Regions from separate parts of the Homo sapiens genome. Here region 1 is linked to region 2. A link means that fine-mapping ties the variant in region 2 to the expression of a gene that starts in the linked region. Tissue or cell type: tibial artery. Region 2 holds a variant in brackets; the other region holds the start of a gene. All regions are shown on one strand. Distances are between the middles of the regions.

Region 1 (5,892 bases), 100 kb after region 2:
TATCATGGGGGTGTTTGTGGCTGTGGGCACCATCCCTGTCCCTTCCAGAGTGCCCTGCATAGAGGCAGACACCCTGAAGCCTGGTGACCCCTGGGCTCTGGCTGGGAAACCCGGGTCGTGGGGACGTGAAAGGGTGAGGTGGCAGTGCCTCTGACCTCTTGCCTTTTGAAGGAGGGCCCTCCTGGACCCGGGAGCGGACCCTGGTGGCGGTGAAGCCCGATGGCGTGCAACGGCGGCTCGTTGGGGACGTGATCCAGCGCTTTGAGAGGCGGGGCTTCACGCTGGTGGGGATGAAGATGCTGCAGGTAGTGGGACTCTGGGCTTGTGGGTGTCCCTGTGGGGATGGGGTTGGGGGATCCTTCTCGGCCTTTCACATCCCAGCCAGCGCCGGGGCAGGGCCTGGCTTTGGCAGTTGAAGGGGCAGGAGGGATCTATTCTGCGGTGGGGGTGCTGCCCATGCTGGTGTTATCTGCAAGGTGCCTGAGGTCAGGGCATCACAGCTGCTGTGCTAGTGCCCACGTTTACTGTCTGCGGCTCCTCCTTACCTCAATGCCACCCAGGCACCAGAGAGCGTCCTTGCCGAGCACTACCAGGACCTGCGGAGGAAGCCCTTCTACCCTGCCCTCATCCGCTACATGAGCTCTGGGCCTGTGGTGGCCATGGTACGGCAGGGCAGGGGTGGTGGAAGGGCCTGTGGGTAAAGGGCGTGTGGGTGTGTCTTTCCCCCCAGCAAAGGGAGGGGCCCTGGATTGAGCCCAGGGGCCCTTGGTGTTCCCCACTTCTCCCCAACCATTATCTCTCGCTGCAGGTCTGGGAAGGGTACAATGTCGTCCGCGCCTCGAGGGCCATGATTGGACACACCGACTCGGCTGAGGCTGCCCCAGGAACCATAAGGGGTGACTTCAGCGTCCACATCAGCAGGTACGGGGGTCCTGATACACCAGGCTGCTGCTGGGGGCAAGGAGGGCCATCACTTGGGGTGGTGGCAGATCCACGAGACCTGGCTGTCTTGCTGTGCTAGGATGAAGCCAGGTCGGACATGACAGCTCACACTGGTGAGAGCCGTGTTCTCCCAGGGCACACAGGGCAATGAGGTGTTCCCTTTGTGTTGTGTGTACCGTGCCATCGTTGCCTGTTACCTGACACCCCAAGGGGTTGGCACGGGGCAACTTGGGGGGAAATGAGGCTCCCAAAAGCTGGGGCCTGGGCGGGTCCACGAGGCTGTAAGAGGCCGAGGCCAGGCTGGAACCCGGTTTCCCAGCTCCACTGTTACTCCTTCCCTGTCTGCAGTCACAGGCTTGCTCCCCTAGACAGAGGGCAACGGGAGCAGCAGATGGTCCCTGGGATTCCTCAGGGTGCACATGAAGCCTGAGCCTCACATTGCTCCTGTCCTGGCACAGGAATGTCATCCACGCCAGCGACTCCGTGGAGGGGGCCCAGCGGGAGATCCAGCTGTGGTTCCAGAGCAGTGAGCTGGTGAGCTGGGCAGACGGGGGCCAGCACAGCAGCATCCACCCAGCCTGAGGCTCAAGCTGCCCTTACCACCCCATCCCCCACGCAGGACCAACTACCTCCGTCAGCAAGAACCCAAGCCCACATCCAAACCTGCCTGTCCCAAACCACTTACTTCCCTGTTCACCTCTGCCCCACCCCAGCCCAGAGGAGTTTGAGCCACCAACTTCAGTGCCTTTCTGTACCCCAAGCCAGCACAAGATTGGACCAATCCTTTTTGCACCAAAGTGCCGGACAACCTTTGTGGTGGGGGGGGGTCTTCACATTATCATAACCTCTCCTCTAAAGGGGAGGCATTAAAATTCACTGTGCCCAGCACATGGGTGGTACACTAATTATGACTTCCCCCAGCTCTGAGGTAGAAATGACGCCTTTATGCAAGTTGTAAGGAGTTGAACAGTAAAGAGGAAGTTTTGCACACCCAGTTCCATAACGTTGTTGGATGTATGAGCCAGGCAGGGGTCCAGAGACCACCAGCCTGCAATCCGGAGAACCCAAGCTAGGCGCGAGCCGGTGCTGTGATCCCGCCAAAGGAGAAGCTGCCTTCCCGGGGAAGGGGCAGAGAGGGGCCGGCGGGCTGAGGCCAACCAGCGCAGAAAGGGCCTGGCAGCCATTACTGTAGCGCTGGCGGCTCTGTCACGCCCCTGAAGCCGCTGGCCCGCGGGTGTGTTCAGCTCAGGAGCGGCCCTGCGTGTTTTTCCCCCGTGGCCGTCGCGGACCCCCGTCTTCCAACAGTGGTGCGGGCGGGGCGCCCCGTCCTGGGTTCGCGGCATAGCCCCGCCCGGGCCCCCACGCGGAACAGAAGTAACGGACCCTTTTTTTTTTGTTTTTGTTTTTGAAACGGAGTGTCGCTCTGTCGCCCAGGATAGAGTGCAGTGGCGCGATCTCGGCTCACTGCAACCTCCGCCTCCCGGGTTCAAGCGATTCTCCTGCCTCAGCCTCCCGAGTAGATGGAACTACAGGCACCCGCCACAATGCCCGGCTAATTTTTGTATTTTTAGTAAAGAGGGGGTTTCGCCATGTTGTCCAGGATGGTCTCGAACTCCTGACCTCGTGATCCGCCCGCCTCGGCCTCCCAAAGTGTTGGGATTACAGGCGTGAGCCACCGCGCCCGGCCCCGGACCCTTCTTTATTGGCCTCAAAACGGGTCATTTTGGGAAGCGGCGCGGGGCTGGCCGCGCTTCCCTGGGCCCCGGCCCTCCCCATGGTGTTTACGGGGAGGCGAACGGGGAGCCCAGAGGCTGCGAGCCTGGCCTGGACCCAGGAGCCAGGGGTATCCCACAAGTCCTGGAGGCTCTGAACGCGGCGCTGACGCCGAATACCTGTGAAAAAGACTCGGGGAGGAGACCCGCAGACCGCCGAGCTTCTGCCGCGGGAACCGCGCCCCCGGCCCCGCAATGCGCCTGCGCCTCGCGCGCCGACTTCCAGTCCCAGCAGGCCGCGGGCGGGGGCGGGGCCTCCGGGGAGAATTCGGGGGAGGGGCGGGGCCTCCGGGAAGCAATCAGGGCAGGGGCGGGGCGTCCGGGGAGTGGGGCGGGGCTCCCGGTTCCAGGCGAGTTCGCAGCTGCGCGCCGGGTCCTGGAGGCCGAGGCCGCTCCCGCCCGTTGTCCCCGCAGTCCCCGACGGGAGCGCCATGGCCCAGCCGCCGCCCGACGTGGAGGGGGACGACTGTCTCCCCGCGTACCGCCACCTCTTCTGCCCGGACCTGCTGCGGTGAGCGGGGCCTGGGAAGCGAGCGCAGCCTTGGTGCGGGGTCCGGTCCGCGGGCGCCGGCGCCCCCACGTGGTCCCCGAGGGCTCGCGTGTTAGGAAACCTGTCTTGCCTGGCTCCTTTCTTTCTTTTTTCTTTCTTTTTTTTTTTTTGAGACGGAATCTCGCTGTGTCGCCCAGGCTGGAGTGCAGTGGCACGATCTCCGCTCACTGCAAACTCTGCCTCCCGGGTTCAAGCGATTCTCCTGCCTCAGCCCGGCTAATTTTTATTTTTAGTAGAGAGGGGGTGTCACCGTGTTGGTCAGGCTCTTTTCGAACTCCTGACCTCAGGTGATCCACCCGCCTCGGCTTCCCAAAGTGCTGGGATTTACAGGCGTGAGCCACCGCGCCCGGCCCAACCTGGCCTCTTTCTTAACAGAAAATTTTAGGTTGAAATCATTTTTCCGGAAGACCCAGAAGGCCCAGGAATGCCAGGTTTTGCCCAGCAGCTCTTCATTTTCCTGCAAACGCCTTGGTGTTCACAAGAGAAGGCAGCCCGGGCAAAGGTCGATCCTCCCCGGTCACCTGCCCTCACTCGGCTAATGGGCGGATCCTTTTTTTTTTTTCCTTTTCTTTTTTTCAATTGGCAACATTTTCAAGTTTCTATTAAAATTTTGATCTTTTGCCAGGAGCAGTGGCTCACGCCTGTAATCCCAGCTCTTTGGGAGGCCGAAGCGGGTAGATCACCAGAGGTCAGGAGTTCGAGACCAGCCTGGCCAACATGGTGAAACCCCGTCTCTGCTAAAAATACAAAAAATTAGCCGGGTGTGGTGGCGCACACCTGTAATCCCAACTACTTGGGAGGCTGAGGCAGGAGAATCACTTGAACTCGGGAGGTGGAGGTTGCAGTGAGCCGAGATCGCACCATTGCACTGGGCAACAAGAGTGAAACTCCATCTCAAAAAAAGAAAACAAGTTTTAAATTATGTTCTCCAAGGACAGGTATTGACAATTCTCTCTGAGTGTTCTGCAGGAAAAAAAAAAAGTTTTTTTTCGAAACGGAGTCTCATTCTGGGTTGAAGCAATTCTCCTGCCTCAGCCTCCCAATTCTCCTGCTTCAGCCTCAGTGCGCCCAAGTGGGACTATAGGCACACAATACCACGCTGGGCTAATTGTATTTCTAGTAGAGGTGAGTGTCACCATGTTGGTCAGGCTGGTCTGGAACTCCTGACCTCAGATGATCCACCTGCCTCGGCCTCCCAAAGTGCTGGGATGACAGGAGTGAGACGCTGCACCTGGCCCAAAATTAATCTTTAATAATTAAGAATAGGAAAGGCAACTTGGAGATCAGCAAAAGTTTGCCATCCATCTGGTACAGTTTGTGCCAGTCATACCGATCAGTACACATTTAATGCGTACAAGAAAATCTCTAATAAATAAAAAAGCCATATTATCCCGACGTAGCTTGCTGAATCTCAGGTATCATATTTGATATTAGTGCCATGCAGGGCTTAGGAGAGAGGAAATTATAACCTCTATCTTGTTTAAGCCAGGGTATTTTTCTCTCTTGTATCTACTTCTGTCCATTTCTGTCAAAAGACACAGAAATACCCTTTCCCCCACTGCACTTTGCAAGTTTGTGTCAGCACAAGTTCAGGACCAGCCTGAGCAACAAAACGATACCCCTCTCTAGAAAAACTAGATGAAAAATTAGCTGGGCACTCTGGCATGCACCTGTAGTCCCAGCTACTGGGGAGGCTGAAGCAGGAGGATCCTTCTAGCCCAAGAGGTCAAGGCGGCAGTGAGCCGTGATGGTGCCACTGCACTCCAACCTGGATGACGTAGCAAGAACCTGTCTCAAAATAAATAAATAGGCCCGGTGTGGTGGCTCATGCCTGTAATCCCAGCACTTTGGGAGGCCGAGGTGGGTGGATCACAAGGTCAGGAGATCGAGACCATCCTGGCTAACACGGTGAAACCTCATCTCTACTAAAAATACAAAAAATTAGCTGGGCGTGGTGGCAGGTGCCTGTAGTCCCAGCTACTCTGGAGGCTGAGGCAGGAGAATGGTGTGAACCTGGGAGGAGGAGTTTGCAGTGAGCCTAGATCATGCCACTGCACTCCAGCCTGGGCGACAGAGCGAGACTCCATCTCAAAAAAAATAAAAAATAAATAAATAAATTAAATAAAATACTATAATTTTATGAATTTTCATTTTATTTATTTATTTATTTTTTAAGACCATGTTTCGCTCTTGTTGCCCAGGCTGGAGTGCAATGGCGCAATTTTGGCTCACCACAACCTCCGCCTCCTGGGTTCAAGTGATTCTCCTGCCTCAGCCTCCCAAGTAGCTGGGATTACAGGCATGCACCACCACACCCGGCTAATTTTTTATATTTTTAGTAGAGACGGGGTTTCTCCATGTTGGTCAGGCTGGTCTCGAACTCCCGACCTCAGGTGATCCGCCCGCCTTGGCCTCCTAAAGTGCTGTGATTAGAGGTGTGAGCCAAGGCACCTGGCCGAATTTTCATTTTAAATCATTGCCGTATAGCAATATGGGAGGTGTATTTTAACAGGGCTCTTTTATTTTTTATTTATTTTTATTTTATTTTATTTATACATATTTTTTGAGACGGAGTCTTGCTCTTTTGCCCAGGCTGGAGTGCAGTGGTGCGATCTCGGCTCACTGCAA
Region 2 (7,517 bases):
GCACTCCAGCCTGGGTGACAGAGTGAGGCTCAGTCTCAGGAATAAAAAAGACAACAAAAAACCAACCCTCATTTGCCTGTAATCCCAATACTCTGGGAGGCCAAGGTGGGTGGATCGCCTGAGGTCAGGAGTTCAAGAACAGCCTGGCCAACATGGCAAAACCATGACTCTACTCAAAAAATACAAAAAATTACCCAAGTGTGGTGGTGGATACCAGTAATTCTAGTTACTCGGGAGGCTGAGGCAGGAGAATCGCTTGAACCTGGGAGGCAGAGGTTGCGGTGAGCTGAGATTGCACCACTGCACTCCAGCCTAGGCAAGAGTGAGACTCCATCTCAAAAAAAAAAAAAAAAAAAAAAAATGGCCAGGCGCGGTAATCCCAGCACGCTGGGAGGCCGAGGCGGGTGGATCATCTGAGGTCAGGAGTTCAAGACCAGCCTGGCCAACATGGTGAAACCCTGTTTCTACAAAAATACAAAAAGTTAACTGGGCATAATAGTGGGTGCCTGTAATCCCAGCTACTCAGGTGGGTTAGACAGGAGAACCACTTGAACCTGGGAGGTGGAGGTTGCAGTGCGTTGACACTGGCCTGTTGCACTCCAGCCTGAGCCACAGGAGCGAAACCCCATCTCAAAAAAAAAAAAAAAAAAAAAAAAAGGCCAGGCGCGGTGGCTCACGCCTGTAATCCCAGCACTTTGGGAGGCTGAGGAGGGCGGATCACGAGGTCAAGAGATCGAGACCGTCCTGGCTAACACGGTGAAACCCCACCTCTACTAAAAAAATACAAAAAATTAGCCGGGCGTGGTGGCGGGCGCCTGCAGTCCCAGCTGCTCTTGAGGCTGAGGCAGGAGAATGGCATGAACCCGGGAGGCGAGGCTTGCAGTGAGCTGAGATCAGGCCACTGCACTCCAGCCTGGGCAACAGAGCAAGACTCCGTCTCAAAAAAAAAAAAAAAAAATTCTTTCATGGAGACTTTTTTTTTTTCTTTTTTTGAGACAGAGTTTTGCTCTTGTTGCCCAGGCTGCAGTGCAATGGCTCGACCTCGGATCTCGGCTCACTGCAATCTCCGCCTCCCAGGTTCAAGCGACTCTCCTGCCTCAGCCACCGAGTAGCTGGGATTACTGGCACTCGCCACCACACACGGCTAATTTTTTGTATTTTTTTTAGTAGAGATGGAGTTTTTGTCATGTTGGCCAGTCTGGTCTCGAACTCCGGACCTCAAGCGATCCACCTGCCTCGGCCTCCCAAAGTGCTGGGATGAGGCTTCTTTTTTTACATTTTATTTTTAACAGCTTTACTGGGATACAAATTATATACTAATCCTAGAGGCCGGCGGATAGCTTTGAGTCCAGGAGGCTGAGACTGCAGTGAACGGTGTGATTACACCACTGCACTTCAGCCAGGGTGACAGAGGGAGACTCTGTCGCAAAAAATTAAAAAAAAAGTCTTAATGAATAAAAAGTATAAGTATGTCTCAAAGTGGAATGTATTAATACTTATCCTAAAATATGGGACATGCAATATTTAGTATATACAGCTATTTAAAAAAAGGATTCGGCCGGGCACGGTGGCTCACGCCTGTAATCCTAGCACTCCAGGAGGCCGAGGCAGGCGGATCACCAAAGGTTGGGAGTTCGAGATCAGCCTAACATGGCAACCACCCCCTGCCCCGGTCTCTACTAAAAATACAAAAATCAGCCGGGCGTGGTGGCTCACGCCTGTAATCCCAGCTACTCGGGAGGCTGAGGCAGGAGAATTGCTTGAACCCAGGAGGTGGAGGTTGCAGTTAGCCAAGATTGCACCACTGCACTCCAGCCCGGGCGACAGAGCTAGACTCCGTCTCAAAAAAAAAGACTCGAAGGCCAGGAATGGTGGCTCATGCCTGTAGTCCCAGCATTTTGGGAGGCCAAGGTGGGAGGATCACTTGAGCCCAAAAGCTTGAGACCCAGCTGGGCAACACACTGAGACCCCCTCTACAAAAAATGAGCCAGGCAAGGTGCTGTGCACCCCTGTTCCCTCGGGAGCCCCAGAAAAACGATGAGCCCGTCCCCACCTCAGTCAGCACCGATGGGGACCCCAAGGCCTTGCGGGACAGGCTTCCAACACAGGCAGGAGGGCCACGCCCCAGGCGCTCAGCTGCCTCACAAGTTCTCATCAAGTAATGTGGAGGGAGATGCGTCCTGGCCAGGGCCTGGGTGAGGGTGGGGGGCAGATCAGGACCTAAGTCTGAGGAAGCTGGGGCCATCCACCCACCAGGGCCAACACTTCCCAGCTGACCTGCCTCTGACCACGACAGGAAGGTGGGGGGTACCACCTCTGTGGGGCCCCTGGCCCTCCTGCTGGGTTCCGGGCACGAGTGCAGGCCCAGGGGGCGAGCAGGAGCAACACCAAGACCGGCCCGGCGGGCAGCGGCAGGGGCTGGACCTGTGGCGCCGGGGCCTTGCTCCACACCACACACGAGGCCTCTGCCCTTCTGGGAGGAGAGAAGTGCTCACGCTACACAAGAGCCTTCCCCAGCCCTCAGCAGGACGGCCAGGTGTGAGCACAGAAGGCTCCTCCGTGGGCACCTCGGGAGTGATGGTCAGTGGGGGCCTTCCCAGGTGACTTAGGTCATTCTCATGTGGGGGTCAGACTGGAAATGACCTCCCGAGAGCATCTGTGCTGCCTGCGGGGTGACAGCCACGTCAGCTTCCCTCCTGCTCGGGGCTTCAGGGACAGCCTCTCTCTGGGGACATGAGGTTTTCCTCCTGGAGACGTGGGGCCCAGGGAGCCTGCTGGAGGGTGCCCGGGAGGGTGCCACAGTGACAGGGGAAGTGTGAGGCGTCACAGGCGACACTCGCCACACACACTGAAGCTGCACACACTGAGACTGTGCGGAGGCCAGGGGTGGCAAAGCAGGCCCCACGAGGCTGGCTGCGTGCGGGGTGCTCACCCGTGGC[C/T]GGTCCTGCGGTGCCTGCTGATCTCCTTTTCCCCCTCAATGATCCACTGCATGATTTTCTGGTTCTTCTCCGCATCCTCCGAGGCACCTGGCACCTCGGTGCTGGCGCTCTTCCCCGACTCAGCCTTCTTGGCATTTCTTTTGCACGCCACGCCCACCTTCCCACTGCAAGGGCAAGAGCTGCGAGTCGCCCTGGCCTCCGGTGGCCGAGGCTGTGCCCCTTCCTCGTCTGCGAGGCCCCCTCCTGGCATCTGTAAGGCTCCCGTGGTGCAGCCGCCGCCCGCTGTCCCCTGCCCGCTTGTCCCCCACCCGCTGTCCCCCGCCAGCTTGTCCCCCACCCGCTGTCCCCTGCCCGCTGTCCTGGTGCTGTCTGGGGGTTGGTTTCCTCTCTAAACACACAGGCAGTCACTGCTCACCCCCTGAAGACTGAGGGCCAGAGCGGGAGCCAGGGTCGGGCTGTGTCCCCTAACCTTCATCTCCCACCTGAGGTCACGGCGTGGACTCCCCTGACCCAGGGCCCAGTCCACTCCCTCCAGCAGAGGGGCCTCCTGCCTGTTGCTGGCGGTCCTGGGTTTCCTGAGTTTTATGAGGAGGTTCTGGCCTTCTGCAGGGACACAGCCTCACCCCAAGCCCCCTCCTCACTGACAGGCGCACGCTCACCTGTGGGCGAGGCCATCACTGGCGTTGGGGGCAGCGCCAACACTCTCTGAGTAGCCTCGGGACCTTGCCCCATGGCTGTGTGGTTCCAGGCCCCAGGCGAAGCTGCTCTGGGCCCTGCGGGTGGCCTCGGCCTCCACCTGCTCCTTGGGCCGGGCTGTGCTGTGGTGGACGTGGTGGTGGACGTGTCGGTGGTGGTGCAGGCCGGCCGCGTCCAGCTTCGCCCCTGACTTGGGTACGTGCTTCCCGTGCCCCGAGGCGGCACCCCCCAGTGCCACTGGCATCTTGGCCACGTGCCCACTGTCCGGGGAGCGATGGCCAGGCCCAGGCGACTGGCGGCCAGGTGTCCTCAGCACACGCTGTACGTGCTCGTCCAGGATGCTCTCAGGGTTCTCCTCGTGTGCATCCCGGAGCCCGGCACAGCCCATGTCCACACAGCGGGGCGGGAAGTGGTGCCAAGCGGGGGCGGGAGGCAGCTTGTGACACGGCCCTGGGGGCCCTGACGATGGATCGCCGTCCTCACCTTCCTCCTCCTGTGTGGGGACAAGCAGCACCATCACCTCTCAGCACCAGCTGCACACTTGGGGAAAACAAAAAGCATCAGGCCTGACCCAGCAGCCCCAGCAGATGCCGTCCCAGCCCAGGGTGGCCGGGGGCCCCTCGCCACCGGTCCTGTCCCTGAGGATGGAGAGGCAGGACGGGGCATAGACAGAAGGAGCGGAGACAGCAAGGCCTCAAGGAATGCAGCGTATGTATCGGCTGTGGGCAGAGCTCTGCACAGATTTAGTTTAGTTTTATTCTTTTTTTGAGACAAGTTCTTGCTCTGTTGCCCAGGCTGGAGAACAGTGGTGTGATCTCAGCTCACTGCAGCCTCCGCCTCCTAGGCTCAAGCGATCCTCCCACCTCAGCCTCCAGAATAGCGGAGACCACAGCCGTGTGCCACCACGCCCAGCTAATTTTTTTGTACTTTGGGGACAGATGCGATTCTCACCATATTGGCCAGGCTGGTCTCGAATGCCTGAGCTCAAGCAATCTGCCTGCCTTGGCCTGTATATATATATATTTTTTGAGACAGAGTCTTGCTCTGTTACCCAGGCTGGAGTGCAATGGTGCCATCTCGGCTCCCTGCAACCTCTGCCTCCTGGGTTCAAGTGATTCTCCTCCTTCAGCCTCCCAAGTAGCTGAGACTACAGGTGTGCGCCACCACACCCAGCTAATTTTTGTATTTTTAGTAGAGACAGGATTTCACTATGTTGGCCAGGCTGGTCTCGAACTCCTGACCTCATGATCCACCCACCTCGGCCTCCCAAAGTGTTGGGATGACAGGCATGAGCCGCCGCGCCCGGCCTCCCATTATATTTTAAGGAGAACCTTGTACAGAACGGCTCTTGGGTTATGTACATGTTGTGATGCTGCCTGACGAGCTTCCACATGAAGCCGGTGGAGTTTCACTTGATTCTCCAAGTTAACAGGTGCTGAAGCTTATCTGTCAGAGCAAACATTTGATCACTTTAATTCCAAGTTGCATCTCATACTTATTTTCTCATCTTATTGGACTGACAAACTAAAACAGTATTGAGTAAATCTGGTGTCAATACAAAAGAAAGAGAGGGAACTAAGTTACCATGTATCTATGTATGTATTTATTTATTTAGAGTCAGAGTCGCTCTGTCAGCCAGGCTGGAGTGCAGTGGCACGATCTTGGCTCACTGCAACCTCCACCTCCCGGGCTCAAGCAATCCTCCTGCCTCAGCCTACCGAGTAGCTGGGATTATAGGAGTGTGCCACCATGCCTGCCTAATTTTTTTGTATTTTTAGTAGAGACGGGGTTTCACCATGTTGGCCAGGCTGGTCTCAAACTCCTAACCTCAGGTAATCCACCACCCTCGGCCTCCCAAAGTGCTGGGATTACAGGAGTGAGCCACCACAACCGGCCTATTTATTTTCATTTTTTTGAGACAGAGTCTCGCTCTGTCACCCAGGCTGGAGTGCAGTGGCACGATCTCGGCTCACTGCAACCTCCGTCTCCCGGGTTCACACCATTCTCCTGCCTCAGCCTGCCCAGTAGCTGGGACTACAGGTGCCCGCCACCACGCCCGGCTAATTTTTTATATTTTTAGTAGAGATGGAGTTTCACCGTGTTAGCCAGGATGGTCTCGATCTCCCGACCTCGTGATCTGCCCACCTCGGCCTCCCAAAGTGCTGGGATTACAAGTGTGAGCCACCGTGCCCGGCCTATTTTTATTTATTTAATTTTTTTTTGAGACGGAGTTTCACTCTTGTGTCCCAGGCTGTAGTGCAATCTCCGCCTCCCGGGTTCAAGTAATTCTCCTGCCTCAGCCTCCCGGGTAGCTGGGATTACAGGCACCCACCACCATGCCCAGCTAAATTTTTTGTATTTTTAGTAGAGACTGGGTTTCACCCTGTTTGCCAGGCTGGTCTCGAACTCCTGACCTCAGGTGATCCACCCACCTTGGCCTCCCAAAGTGCTAGGATTACAGGTGTGAGCCACCACACCTAATCGCAGTGGTGCCATCACAGCTCAAGGCAGCCTCAACCTCCAGGGGTCAAGCGATCCTCCTGCTTCAGCCTGCCAAGTAGCTGGGACTACAGGTGCATGCCACCATGTCCCATTAATTTTTTCTTTTTCTTTTTTTTTTGTAGAGATGGGGAATCTCACTATGTTGTCCAACCTGCTCTTAAATTCCTGGCCTCAAGTGATCCTTCTGTCTTGGCCTCTCAAAGTGTTGGGATTACAGATGTGAGCCACTGTGCCCCACCTACCTCTATATTTTAATATAAACAAACCTCCCAACGTTTAGCACCCAACTCTCACACCTGCAAAAGTATCCAAATGCAACTGGAACAGGCGTGCCCCAGAGCTGGTGTGGGCTTGGCTGCGGGCACCTGCACTGGGGCTGAGGGTGAAATATGGCACTAAAGAGGACAGACGGATGCTGGAGCAGAGCCGGGGGACAGGTGGGTGGTGGGCATCCCCTGGCGGATGCAGCTATGCTGCCTCCCTTTCCTTGGTTTTGTAGGACTAAAGGGCCCGGGCACTCTGGGGAGAAATCTTAACCGAGGGTCTTCCTAGGGACTAAAAGTGTTTGGAGTTTTGATGCCGTTCACTGCCTTGGCCGAGCTCCACATCGGCAGGAATTCTATCATGGGGCTGTGAAATGTTACAGATTAACTTAACCACTCGGCTAATGGTTTTTGTTTTCTTCTTTGTGCTTTAATTTCCCAAATTTCACAATGAAAATAGGTTATTTAAAAAATCTGGAGTTCACGCCTGTAATCCCAGCACTTTGGGAGGCCGAGGCGGGTGGATCACAAGGTCGGGAGATCGAGACCATCCTGGCTAACATGGTGAAACCCCGTCTCTACTAAAAATACAAAAAAATTAGCCGGGCGTGATGGTGGGCGCCTGTAGTCCCAGCTACTGGGGAGGCTGAGGCAGGAGAATGGCGTGAACCCGGGAGGCAGAGCTTGCAGTGAGCTGAGATCGTGCCACTGCACTCCAGCCTGGGCGACAGAGCGAGACTCTGCCTCAAAAAACAAAACAAAACAAAGCAAAAAAAAAAAAAAAACTGGAGTTATTCCTTTTAGGGAAGGACCACCACTCCTGGGCCCTGGTGGTGCTGGATCCACACACCTGTGGGCACTGCCATGCTCCCTGTTGCTGGGACAGAGCCAGGACTCCATGGGGTGGGGAAGCCTTGAGAGTCACAGGTGAGAGCCACACACTCAGCACCTGTGGCTACGCCTGCCTTTAACATGTCTTGCTTAAGGCCAGGCACGGTGGCTCGTGCCTGAAATCCCAGCACTTCGGGAAGCTGAGGTAGGAGGATCACTTGAGGCCAGGAGTTCAAGACCAGTGTGGGTAATATAGCAAGATTCCATCTCTACAAAAATATTTTTT

What was found. PIP is the estimated chance that this variant, and not a neighbour inherited with it, causes the effect.
Region 1: it holds the start of DECR2, and the variant in region 2 is fine-mapped to the expression of DECR2 in tibial artery (GTEx, PIP above 0.99).

Annotation. Positions count from the first base shown.
Region 1 is chr16:398,819-404,710 of GRCh38, forward strand. DECR2 (2,4-dienoyl-CoA reductase 2) reads left to right here and starts at 3,067. Exons shown (of 9, transcript NM_020664.4): 1 at 3,067-3,225. The coding sequence starts at 3,146. It overlaps NME4 (NME/NM23 nucleoside diphosphate kinase 4), which reads left to right. Exons shown (of 5, transcript NM_005009.3): 2 at 172-305; 3 at 561-662; 4 at 809-921; 5 at 1,401-1,936. The coding sequence ends at 1,524. RefSeq lists enhancers at 291-876, 1,890-2,199, 2,047-2,632.
Region 2 is chr16:294,124-301,640 of GRCh38, forward strand. It overlaps AXIN1 (axin 1), which reads right to left. Exons shown (of 11, transcript NM_003502.4): 6 at 3,599-4,128; 7 at 2,933-3,103. Among named protein-coding and RNA genes, the nearest start is that of PDIA2, 15 kb to the left of the region's middle. The variant C/T (reference allele first, on the strand shown) is at 2,940.